Linked DNA regions of Homo sapiens. The protein of the gene in region 2 interacts with the protein of the main gene of each other region in a pairwise test. Each region holds a gene or a part of one and is shown on either strand. Other genes may lie near its edges.

The links.
Region 1: the proteins of LMOD3 (region 2) and KLHL40 interact in a two-hybrid assay, tested with the Homo sapiens proteins (one large-scale study listed by BioGRID).

What each region holds. Positions count from the first base shown.
Region 1 is NC_000003.12:42,690,649-42,693,227, reverse strand, and holds the end of KLHL40 (kelch-like protein 40), read right to left. Parts: intron 2,370-2,579; coding exon 2,223-2,369; intron 1,347-2,222; coding exon 1,235-1,346; 3' UTR 684-1,234; downstream 1-683. Other genes in the region: HHATL (protein-cysteine N-palmitoyltransferase HHAT-like protein), read left to right, coding at 10-151, 353-477. UniProt on the Homo sapiens protein: Substrate-specific adapter of a BCR (BTB-CUL3-RBX1) E3 ubiquitin ligase complex that acts as a key regulator of skeletal muscle development.
Region 2 is NC_000003.12:69,115,818-69,119,642, forward strand, and holds part of LMOD3 (leiomodin-3), read right to left. Parts: coding exon 2,882-3,825; intron 1-2,881. UniProt on the Homo sapiens protein: Essential for the organization of sarcomeric actin thin filaments in skeletal muscle. Increases the rate of actin polymerization.

The DNA.
Region 1 (2,579 bases), about 26 Mb from region 2:
ACCGGATAGGCCTCTCTGTCAGTGCAGATGTCCCGTAGGGTCCGGGCCCTGTTTGGAGCCATGAACTTCTGGGCCATCATCATGTACAACCTTGTGAGCCTGAACAGCCTCAAATTCACAGAGCTGGTTGCCCGGCGCCTGCTACTCACAGGTGAGGGACAGGGGTGTGGGGATACAGAAGGTGCCAGGCATCAGCCTCAAGGACCGTGACCTTCCAAAATGCCTCCTATCTCCCTCATCACCCCTGGGACTCAGAAGGGAGGGCCCATCAAGCGGGGAGAGGGGTGGGAAGACAAAAGTCGCTGAGGATGCAGTGCTGCTCCTGAGCATCTATGACTCCCTCCCCACACAGGGTTCCCCCAGACCACGCTGTCCATCCTGTTTGTCACCTACTGTGGCGTCCAGCTGGTAAAGGAGCGTGAGCGAACCTTGGCACTGGAGGAGGAGCAGAAGCAGGACAAAGAGAAGCCGGAGTAGGAGGGAGCGGGTAGAGGGATGGGCTCTGCTCAGCTATTCTTGGGCCAGATGGGGCCTGACCGATAGAATAAAAGACTTTTCTACAACAGCTTGGCTGTTCCCTGACCCTTCTTCCCACAGTCCCCTGGCTCCACGTCCATAGTGGCTGAGGAGCTGGAGGCTCTAGGCCTCAGGCAGGGGAGGGTTCCCACCCATAGGGTGGAGGGGACACCAGATGGAGAGCAGAGACCATCGACCTTGGCAGCCCAACAGCAGAACACTGAAGCCCCAAGTCTTCAACACACCTGCTCACTGACTCTTGGAGCACTGATGCAGACCCTGAGCTGCTTGCTCAGAAGGCACTTTATTCTTCCTAAAGAAGGAGACATATCTGCACTGTACACTGCACTTGATGGGGATGCTCCCATCGGACAGACGAGAAGGCTGAGTCCTGTGGGGAACTTTGCCAGCACACTCAGCTAGGCTGGGGCAGGGCCAGCACACGGCCTGGGATACCGCCCTGTGGTTCTGGTTCATGGATCAAGACAACCTAGGGGGATATGGCAACACTGGAGAAGCCTCTAGTTTCTCACCCTTGCCCAAAAGTCCAGGACTAAGCAGCACTTCCCTTTCCTTGGCTGACGCAGCCCCTGAGGCACCATAACTGGATCCAGGTAGACTCTGGCCTCTCCTAGCCTCTTTTCTGGAGCCCCCACAAGGCCAGGCCAGTGAGGGTCGCAGGATGGGAGGGGTGCTTAGTTCAGTCTGCCTGAGCTGGTCACATCTTAGTCAGGCACAGCACATTGAGCCGCACTGGTAGGAAGGTGGCACCTGCTGCATAGGCGATCTCCCGCAGGACACCCTCCCATTTCTTCTCCTCCTCGTTATACCTGGGGATGAGAGAGAGTGGGGACAAGGATGGAGAGCTTGGTCAGCTGAGTCCAGAGTGGAACGCAGCAGAGAGGGGTGGCTGAGGGCACTTGGCCCATCTCTAGGGAGATCTGCTCCTGAAAATCCCCAGGCTCTGGGAAAGGAGACCCCCCACAAGACCCACCCCAAGGAACACCCACCCCACACTCCAGGAAGGGTCTTTCTCCCCAGGAAAGATCACCTCTCAAGGGGTGTTCCCATATTCCTCAAAGTTCCCCTCCAGGAAGGTCTACACTGCCCACACCACCCCATCAATGTCCTCTCCTTGAGAATTTCCATGCTCCATTTCTACTAAGTCTCACGTCTCAGCCTCCGGCAGCACTGCTCCCCAGGGGCTGCCTGCAGCAGTGCAGATGGCTGCAGGTTCAGGAAGGAGATGCCCCAGAGGCTAAAGTTTCCTTCTCCCACCCCCACAAAGGACCAGCCATAGAGAGCAATGGTTCTGAAAGGCCAGGGCTCCAACTGTTTCCCAGCCCTAGTGGCAGCCCTCCCTCCAGACCAAGCACCCGGAAGGCAGGAGAGAAGAAAATCCGGCTGCTATTTGGGCCCTGTTTCTGTGAGTCTATGACCTAAGCTTGGGTCTGCTCCCATCTGCAACACTGTTGCTGCTCCACAGTGGGGCATGGTGTCATCTGTGCAAGCCCAGACTTTCCCAACAAACTGGTGAGAAACGGCCAAGCAGGGTATGTTGGCTATTCCTCCCTACAGGACTCCCTAGAAGAGGGATCCGCTTTGCCCCCAGAGGAGCTTGCCCAGTGCCTTGGTACCCCACCATGGTGCTATGGGGTGTCAGCCTTGCTCATGATGCCCCCTTGCCTCCCCAGGGTGGGACTCACCTCCAGATGTCATTGAGCTCTGTGGGAACCAGCTCTCCAGACTCCGTCTCCAGTGTGGCAAAGCCACCAATGGCATAGAGGGTACCCACCAGGCTGACCAGGCTGAGTGAGCTACGCTCCTGTGGGAAGGCCTCGAAGGGTGCCCACCTGGGGGTGTGTGAGAAGGTGCATCATTGGGATGCCTCGGCAAGCCCAGTGACTGTCCCTGCCACCCAGCACCCACAGCTCCAACTGCAACCCTTTGCAATCCAAGTCCCAGGCACCCATGCCCCCAACCCCATTCCCCTTCCCTGTCCCTCTGGTCTTCCCTTCCTTCCCCATTCTCTTGCTCCTCCACTTTCCTTTCCTTGTCCTCTT
Region 2 (3,825 bases):
TTTCAACAGCTCTGAAATCAGAATCCATCTTAAAATCGATGGTGTTTTACAATAGTTGGCTGGAGACCCAAGTGTGAACACATCATAGCTACTCATACTATTATTACCTCCATTGAGTCATGTGCCCTGTTGATACTACACACACAGATGTATTGCCTCTTAAAATAGCTTTTAAAGAAAGATAAGTAAGCAAATGTGGTAAAGTGAGACGGGTATGCAAGAATTCTTTGTACTACTTTTGACCTTCTGTAAGTCTAAAATGACCTCAAAACAAAACAAAAAAATTAAAATATCTTTTAAAAGATTATACTATGTTTTGGCTTTAAAGCAGAAATTTATAGTACATGCAGAAAGGCACAGAAACAGAGTGCTGGGAAGCAATCTGATATTAGTGAAGCAAATTTTCATTAGTGCAAGGAGGCATTTTCATATTTTTCTTGCCGAGTGTTTTCCAGGACCGAATAGATGAAGTTGTGTGACATTTTGTAACTGAGACACATGCAAACAGATCTGTCACAGGCCAAGCCAGGCAACTGAAGGCAGGAGAAATTGCCAATCCTTCAGAATAAATGAAGCCCTTTCAAAACCGAGGGTGATATGCAAGATTGTCATTCAAAAAGCATGTCAGAGTTCACTTTGCGGCATGTTTTTCTTGAATTATTTTTTTTAAAACACCACCACCAAATACACTTAAAATTGGTAGTAGTTTTGAATTGATTAAAATATGAAAAATGCAGTGCTTGGTGGGGTGTTTTATTCTTGCAATTATCATCATGAATTTATTTTAATGTCTTTTGTCCTAGACTCTAGACCCAAAACTGTAGTGTTCTCAGTTGAGTAAAAGGCAGAGGGGTGAAAAATTAAACCTACACTGTAAGCTCTGTGTGCGGTCGAGACTGAACCTGACTTACCACTATATCCCCAATCCTTCTCATCTGCCTGACATATATATTTGTTAGATTAACAAATAAGTGAATGGATAGAATGGAATTGACCCAGGAAAAATGGATTTGCTCAGCAGAGCACTCAGAAGTCAGGGAGTTGGTTCAGATGCTCTTCTGAACTTCATTCCCTCTTCTACTCCGAACTTACATGCCACCTTTGGCACAGATTTTTTCAAAAGACGTCTCATCATTCTTTTCAGACTGCTCTTTTCTGAATGTACAGCCACCAAGGTGGCTTGAATATTCTTTGCCAATGACTAGTTACTGGAAAAGTGGTAGAACTAGTTTCTCTCAAACAATACCCCAATTCATTCCTAGGGGAGTTCTGGCTGTCCAGAGAAGAGCAGGTGCAGAAAGTCTTGATGTTGTGCCCAAGGGCAGGCAAAGAACCATTGTCTGACCTCATGTGACCTCCAGCGTTCTCACCCTGGCCACTGCTCCAGGAAGAATCAGAGCCTCTCTAAATCATAGATGAAAGTCAGCTTTGATTTAGAAGAATGGGCTATTGATAATTCTCCATTCTAGGAGTTGGGAATAAGGACGATACATATGTGAAAGACTAGCAATTATTTCAGAATATCAAGCTCTTTAAAGCAGAAAAAGAGCAAGCATGCATAAAAATTCAACATGTTTTGAAAAAACATGAATCTGTGTAACAAAATAATATACAGACTATTCTGCCAACATAATCTCGTGGCTATATTACAGGAGATTTTAAAATAATATAGTTAATTATCAATCACCTGCGGCCTCTGAACACATCTTTCAACCTCAATAAACGCCATCATAATAATGACCAAAATATCTTCATTTCTGCAACTTAAGTTGCACGGAAAATAACTTTTCCACTCGGCAGTAATCGTGGATCATGGTAAATGTTAAATTGAAATAGTGATTTTAAAACTCCGTGAATTCATGGTGACACCAACCTGAAGTTCAACATTTATCTGCCTAAAAAGTGAGCAATACAAATGCAATTTCGAACAGTCTCTCTTCATCTACTAAAAAGAACTGTTTCTATGCATTTTGGAAGCATTCCATTATCTACAAACAACTGGCCCAATTTGGGTGGTTTTTTTTTTTTTTTTTTAGATGGAGTCTCGCTCTGTCACCAGGCTGGAGTACAGTGGTGCAATCTCCGCTCACTGCACCATCCGCCTCCCAAGTTCAAGTGACTCTCCTGCCTCAGCCTCCTGAGTAGCTGGGACTACAGGTGCCCGCCACCATGCCCAGATAATTTTTGTATTTTTAGTAGAGATGGGGTTTCACCATGTTGGCCAGAATGATCTTGATCTCTTGACCTTGTGATCCACCTGCTTTGGCCTCCCAAAGTGCTGGGATTACAGGCGTGAGCCAATGCGCCCGGCCTGGCCTCATTCTTATTTATTCCTCACTGTAGGTTCCTAGGGATCTCTGAGTGTCAGCTCCATTGTGGCTGGAATGGTGTTCTTTTGAATATGCACTTGAAGAGGTCAGAAGAAGAGGTGAATTAAAGCTTGACTCTAGACTCAGAACCGGGTTTCAATGTCAGCTCTACCACTTCCTAGCTGTGTCTCCTCCACATGTTATTAAATTCTCTAAGCCTCAGTATCCTTTTTATTAAATGGGGAGAATAACAGTACCTAGCTTATAGGGTTAGTAAGATGATTACATGAGTTAATTCATATAACAACTCCAGCCTATAGTAAATGCTCCCTAAATGTTAGCTGCTAATATCGTTGTTACAGAAGTCATATAGGCGTACCTAGAGATGGGGTGCTACAGGTGTACATCCTTAGGGATAGCAGTAATTTAGTTCTATTGGTAATGCTCATTGGCTTCCCCCAGTTGGTCTCAATTAGTGAGTATCCCCTTATGTTAAAACAGAGAGGGAATAAAGTTGGGATGCATTTACTATGGAGGGTGCTCAGTCACCATTTCTCCCTCCTTCTACTTACAGGTTTAAGATAGGCGACACTGCTGTGACGAATGTCGTTTAGCAGCTGATCTCTGGGAGTGATTTCCACCAATGGGGGTGGCCTGTTTCTCGGCACTGGCTTGAGCGTTTTGATGACATCTTTGAGGTTGGTTTTCTCGGGTGGTTCTCTGGCTTCCGGCATCCGAGATTTGCGCTGGATTCTCTTCAGCTTCACCACCCGGAAGGAGTCAGGGTCTGTCCTGTACTTCGGGGCCTGCGATGGCTTTTTCATCATTTCACTGCGTTGACTAAAGGGGACATTTTGGGGGTTGGGAGGCCGAGGTGGCGGTGGCTGGAAGAATTCCTGCATTCTGGAATCTGGCTTGGGTCCTCCCAACAGCTCCCACATCCCAGGGGGCAGCCCCAACCCATTCTCTAACATGGCTATCAGCTTCTTCTGTTCCTTGAGTTGCTGCTGTTTTTGCTCTTCCTGTCGTTTCTGCCTTTGTTTATCCTGATTCCTGGTGAGCAGATTAGTGACCACCATTCTGGGACCCGGAAGCTCAAAATGGTAGCCCATCTTCAGGAGAGTGTTGTTTGCCTTCAAAAGCCTGGCTATTTCCATTTCAGCATGGTGACCCAACATGTGCCTCTGATTGTGAAACCGAAGCTCAGTTAGCGTCTCATTAAACTGGAGACACCTCATGATGGCCACAATCCCTTTACCTGTGATGAAATTGGACTCGATGTTGAGAGTGGTGATGCTTCTATTTTCACGCAACATGTTAGCCAAGGCAAATGCTACATTCTCATCTGCACCCACATTGGCTAAACTGAATGTTTTGATGTGCTTGTTTTTCTTCATTGCATTGACAAAGTCCAGTAACATTTCTTTGGGGATGTTTTCAATGTTGTTCAGGTTGAGTTCCTTCATGTCAGGATCATTTTTCCTAACTCTCCTCAAGCTCCCATCCAGGTCTGTCT